2 separate regions of the Homo sapiens genome follow, and region 2 is linked to region 1. The links come from fine-mapping of genetic effects on gene expression. A gene starts in region 1. The other region holds a variant in brackets. All regions are shown on one strand. Distances are from middle to middle. Region 1 holds the start of MOSPD2 (motile sperm domain containing 2). Region 2 has its middle 55 kb from the start of FANCB.

Region 1 (3,033 bases):
CTGGAACAAAGTTTGGGGTGTGAAGAAAATTGGCAAGGAGGTATGAAAAGATTTACTGACAAGTATTTGAAACCGATTTCCATATTTGTTCTATGTCATCAACTGATGTATAATCTAGGATGGTTTAAAGTTGCAGGGAACCTCTGCTGAGTACTAGTCAAGATGTAGAAGCTTAACTCCTTTCACAGTAACCAAAATGACAACTGAGGCAAAATATTCACTGAGAATCCACTATATTTTAAGACATGCTAGATGGTTTATGTTTTTTTAAAAAATTTAATCCTACTAACTTTATTATTTGCACTTCACAGATATGAAAACGGGCTCAGAATAGACAAGTAAGCTATGTAGTGGCAGGGTTAGGATTACAATCAATCTTAAGGTAGGCAACATATAAATCCTTATTTAATTCCATATTTACAATAAGTTATTCCGTATGTTTTACAAAATTACTGTACAAGCATTAAATATTCAGTTAAGTACCTGACAACTCAAGTATCTGTGACATCTGGACACAGAATGTTCAACCAATAAATCAATTCTGGACTCATAGGTACTTTGCAAGATACAGTTTGGGATAAGAACTTGTTCCAGCATTGGAGGGCCTATTTTGTGGGTAGCATGCTGGGTTGTATGAAAGCCAAATCAAACAAAATATCCAAGGAATTTGTATACCCAATTAAGTACACATCAATAGTATTATGGCAGTTTCCAGGTACATTTTCGCTAGTGTTGCTGGTGAAAGGCCAGCAGTGGAACCGTGGACTGGACAATGTCACCCGTGTTGTGGGCCTAACAAGTATCCTGCAAGTTCCATAAACACGAGGGCATGCTAAAAACTTAACCGATTTCCAACTTACATTAACCCTTTAAAGGGAGCATGGGACACACCACTTGACCATTTGAAGCAGTGCACACGGCTTGTCATGGAGAGGAAAACCTTTGAGACGTGCCCAGCATCATTCCTGTGAGGGTCGAAAGGGTCCCTAACACCTCCCACAAATACACTCACAAACACTCCAGCAAAGTTGGGGATGCTCACTGCACACCTTTCTTAATACCTGGAACAGAGTACCCACCTGTCACATACTCAGCTTCGAACCTCCTCCGGGTCTCAGAGATGAGCTTGGCTTTATTCTGGGCGTGATTCTGGATGGGAGACACGATGGGACCTTAGATACTACTTGCATCAACCCGCTTACCCTCAACCCAGCCCACCTGCACACGGGCGCTCGGTCCCCGGGCCTCAGAGGCGGCTTCCGGGTCCGGGGGGCCAGCGGCGGTGCAATAGGCTCCTCACCTCTGCCATGATCACCGTCGTGGATGTGATTGCGGTTGTCGCCGTCGCCCGTTCTACCGTCGCCGACCGAGTATCTCATCACCCGGCAGTCCCGCCCAGAGGTAGACAGAGAAGGGTGGGAGGGGGAGGCGGTCGCGTGACACCGGAAGGCGGACAGAAGCGCCGCCGCACCGCCCAATCCAATGCGGACGCCTGGGTCTGGAGGCGGGACCAGGCCCTCAGCCTAGGTCCCATTCGATTCTCGTCTGGCCTCGCCCCGCGACATCCCCCGCACTGCGGTCCCGCCCCCGCCAGCCGCGAGATCGCCGGCGCTTCCCCCGCGGAGCTCCGCCCTAGAGAGCTCGCGGGCTCTCTGCTTTCACAACACTCCCCAGGGCCCCGCCTCCTCAGCCTCCCTTGGCCACCTCTCCTGGCTGGCTTCTAGGCTCCGCCTCCTCTGCGTTCGACGCAGCCTCCGCCCGGCCTCCCAGGATGCAGCGCGCTGGCGGGAGGTTTGGAGCAGATGGATACCGTATCGACGTGGGGCCTCCGGTATGTTGCCGCTGCGTTGAGGTAGGATGGGGCTGGCGAGTCTTCCCTTCCCAGGACTTCGCAGAGGGGGCGATGGGGCTGGATTTCCTCCCCTTGTCCCCGCATTGCGGGAGAGAGGGAAGGAAGCGGGCATCCCGAGACCTGGGTCTGTCATTCCTTGCAATGATAATTGGATTTTAAGTGCTACATTCGCTTGAAGTTTTTTTCATCCCTTCAGTATCCTTCCAACTTGGAGTGTGAGATGCTTAATGAGCAAAATATCTCTGAAATCTTTAATCTCAAATAATTATATAAAGTTAAAAAAAGCGTGTTTCGGCTTATTAAGGTAGTTGTGTTCAGCCGGGGGGGTGGGGGGGTGTGTGTGGGGGGGGCGGTTTTACCACCCAGGGGACCTTTGGCAACCTCTGGAGACATTTTTAGTCACCACTGCTAGGGGCCGGGGGCAAAAGAGATGCTCACTGGCTACTAGTGGATAGAGACCAGGGAAGCTGCCAAACATCCTCCAGTGTACATGAAAATTCACAACAGTTATCCAGCCCAAAATGTCAATAGTGTCAAGGTTGAGAAAGATTTAGATTTAAAGGGACTGGAACAAATTTTATTCGTCAGTTAAAAACAATTGAAAGAAAATAGTTGCGCATACAATATTGCCTTTTTTAAAGTTGAAAGATACTGAAAACTACAAACAAGTTGTAAGAATAGTCCCCCATATTTCCATCAACCGTAGTCATCCATGACAGAATGGCATGTTAGCATCTTTTGTCCTAGACTTTTAAATATATTTACATTTTTTATGGGAAAAAATGAACACATTGTTTAAACGTTGTTTGACTACATCCTTAAAAGATATTTCAGATATAACTAAAGTCTCCTTCTACCTCTACTCACCTATCCTGGACACTTCCTTGTCCAGAATCAACAGCATTCAGAATTTGGCATGAAATGTTTACAGTTTTACATTTTTTTATTTTGGATCATACTGCCTGGGTTTGAATCCTGGCTCTGTCACTTCTTATCTGCAAGCCTTTGAGAAGATCCTGAAACTCCTTGCCTCAGTTTCTCCATCTATAAAATGGGATAGTAACAGTGCCTATGTCATAAGGATGTTGTGAGGAAGAAACGAGTTAATCCAAAGTGCTTAGAGCAGTACCTGGCACTGTTTCTTCAGGAAAAAAAAAAAAAATAGTACATGGCACTATTTC
Region 2 (2,500 bases), 55 kb after region 1:
CAAGGGCCTTATGTCATGGGACAACCCTGCTCCACCCCTAGAACCCATCTTCTAGACCTGAGCTGCCTAATGCATAACCACTAGCCACCTGTATGACTCAACTCTTGAAATTTGTCCAGGGGGGCTGGGGAACTGAACTTTGAATTACTATTAGTTAATTGGCATTTAAATTTAAAAAACTGAAGCAGTTTTGTCGGTGTGGATTTGAATATTAATGGAAGATGATTTTTTGATATTTGATGCAATTATTGGAAAACTTTTAAGTGTGTTTGGAACAACTTGAGTATGTGAATTCACTTTTTCAGTTGCAAATTTTACCATATCTAAGTTCAGATCAAGTGCTTCTGTTGAAAATTTAGTACCCAAATTGAGATATGCTTAAGTGTGACATGCACATTATATTTCAAAGACTTCGTACGAGTAAAATAATGTAAAACGTCTCCATAATTTTTGAATATCAATTGCATATTGAAATAATAGCATTTTGGATATACTGAATTAGTTAAAATATTAAAGTAAATGTCAACTGTTGCTTTTTGCTTTTTTAATGGGTTTATTAGAAAACTTTATATGTGTGGCATGCGTTATATTTCTACCAGATAGTGCCCTTCTAGAGCAGTTTGGACCATTTTCCTTATTCTCTCATCCCTTCAACTTAGATTTTCCAGGGAAGCCTCAATTTTTAATATTTTCTATAACATCCCCCCCAATCTTCATAAGTAACTCATGCTTATTAAATTGTTTGTTTGAATGAATGTTTTGGAACATGATCCAGGCTTCCACCCAACCCCCCGCCAGTGTTTTCTAATGTTCTTCACATCTAGAGTCTCTCTCTTTTTTTTTTTTTTTTAATAAGGCCTACATATGCTTCTGGGTCCAACTCAGATATGCTTCTGGGTCCAGCCCAAGAGATCTGCCCCACCCCACCCCGTACCTTCTTTGACGAGCAGTCATGGGTTGCCATTTCCTATCCCTCCATTCCCAGGGCACCACTCTCCCTACTGCTTTCCATAGCTCTGACTTCTTACATGTAAATCTTACCCTCCCTTCTAAAAATTCACCTGAGTCAAGCATTATGCTTTCTCACTCCTTTGACACCCACCCATCAGATCTAATTTTTTTGAGCAATACAAAGGCTCAATGAGGACCGGTTTATTAATAGCTCAGTGAGGGAAATTCCAAATATTTGAAGTCTATCCCTGTTGAGTTGCCAAATATTAAATTTGGTACTCGTAATAAATTTAAAATATATATTTATGTTTGTGCAGATGTGCAGCAGTGGAAAAAGCAGTTGCTGTGGAGTTGGCAAACTAAGGCCTTTATTCCATTTCTGTCTCTCTGGTGCCTGACCTTGGGCAAGTGCACTTCATCTTTCCGGAACTGACTTTCTTCATCTA[G/A]AAAACAATTAGATTAGGTAATCCCTAAAGTGCATTGCAAATCACATATTTTACAAGTCTGTGATGGAAATCTTTTTCAAATGCCTTATACACTACCCTGAATTTTTTTTAAATGGAACATGCTGAACAGAAATTAGCATTTTTTTCAAAATGTCAGAGTCATTATTAGGAATGTCAGTTATTATGCGCTGACAATGTAATGCAGCTAGGGGGTTATTGTGGTGTTTATGGCTGCTTACTCTCCAGAGCATGTAGTTTTTATTTTTAAATTAATGTCTGCCCTTTAATTTACTCTTTTAATGTCAGACCTGTTACTTCTTACTACTGACATCTTGACACCAGTTCTGATTGTATTAACACCTTCCCTATCCCTATCCTACCTAATTTGGGACTTCTTTGGTGATGTGGAGAAGCCTGATAATGATAATCTTGTTTGCCTTATGTCTGAAATTGGTCATTTCGTTTCTCAGCAATCATTTATTGGGTGTCTATACCTGTATGCGAGGCACAAGAGGATGTAGGGGCAGAGGAGGAAATAATTTATAAACCATCTTAATAACCTTGGGGGGCTTTATGGTGAGAAATGTATCTGACCTTTAGTGCAGGGCTTCTACATGCCTTTTTCTTCACTTCTCAGTTTCCAGCCTCTTTCCAAATGGCCGAGTTTCTCAGACAAGTCACCTGTGGATAATAGAGGGCTAATAATAATAATGGTTAATAAAAACAGTGGGGAATTCTCACAGAAATATGCAGAGACACAAATAGAAGAGAACGGAAAGTTCAGAAATAGACTCCCTGTGTCTATATAGGAACTGGGCATATAATAGGATGTTTCCCAAAACAGAGAGAAAATAGTAGGTAGTGTCTCATTTAATTCTTACAATAAGCTTGTGAGCTAGGTAACATTATTCTCCTTTTATAGATAAGGTAAAGAGTGGTTCAGAAACTTGCCCAAAGTCACAGGGGAAATAAGTGGTAGATCTAGGAGAAGGTGTTTCTTTCATCTTTGGTCTACTCCACCTCTATATGGGCCAGTTGATGTTTTAGATCATCTTCATCCTTTTAGATGATTTACTGGTCAAAGGAAACTTAGAAAAGTGGTT

Evidence for each region. PIP is the estimated chance that this variant, and not a neighbour inherited with it, causes the effect.
Region 2: its variant is fine-mapped to the expression of MOSPD2 in whole blood (TOPMed, PIP 0.97).

What each region holds. Positions count from the first base shown.
Region 1 is chrX:14,871,805-14,874,837 of GRCh38, reverse strand. MOSPD2 (motile sperm domain containing 2) reads right to left here and starts at 1,417. Exons shown (of 15, transcript NM_152581.4): 1 at 1,301-1,417; 2 at 1,080-1,149. The coding sequence starts at 1,309. It overlaps FANCB (FA complementation group B), which reads left to right and starts at 1,769. Exons shown (of 10, transcript NM_001018113.3): 1 at 1,769-1,852. RefSeq lists a silencer at 1,450-1,679.
Region 2 is chrX:14,816,726-14,819,225 of GRCh38, reverse strand. It overlaps a transcript of FANCB not described here. Among named protein-coding and RNA genes, the nearest start is that of FANCB, 55 kb to the left of the region's middle. The variant G/A (reference allele first, on the strand shown) is at 1,398.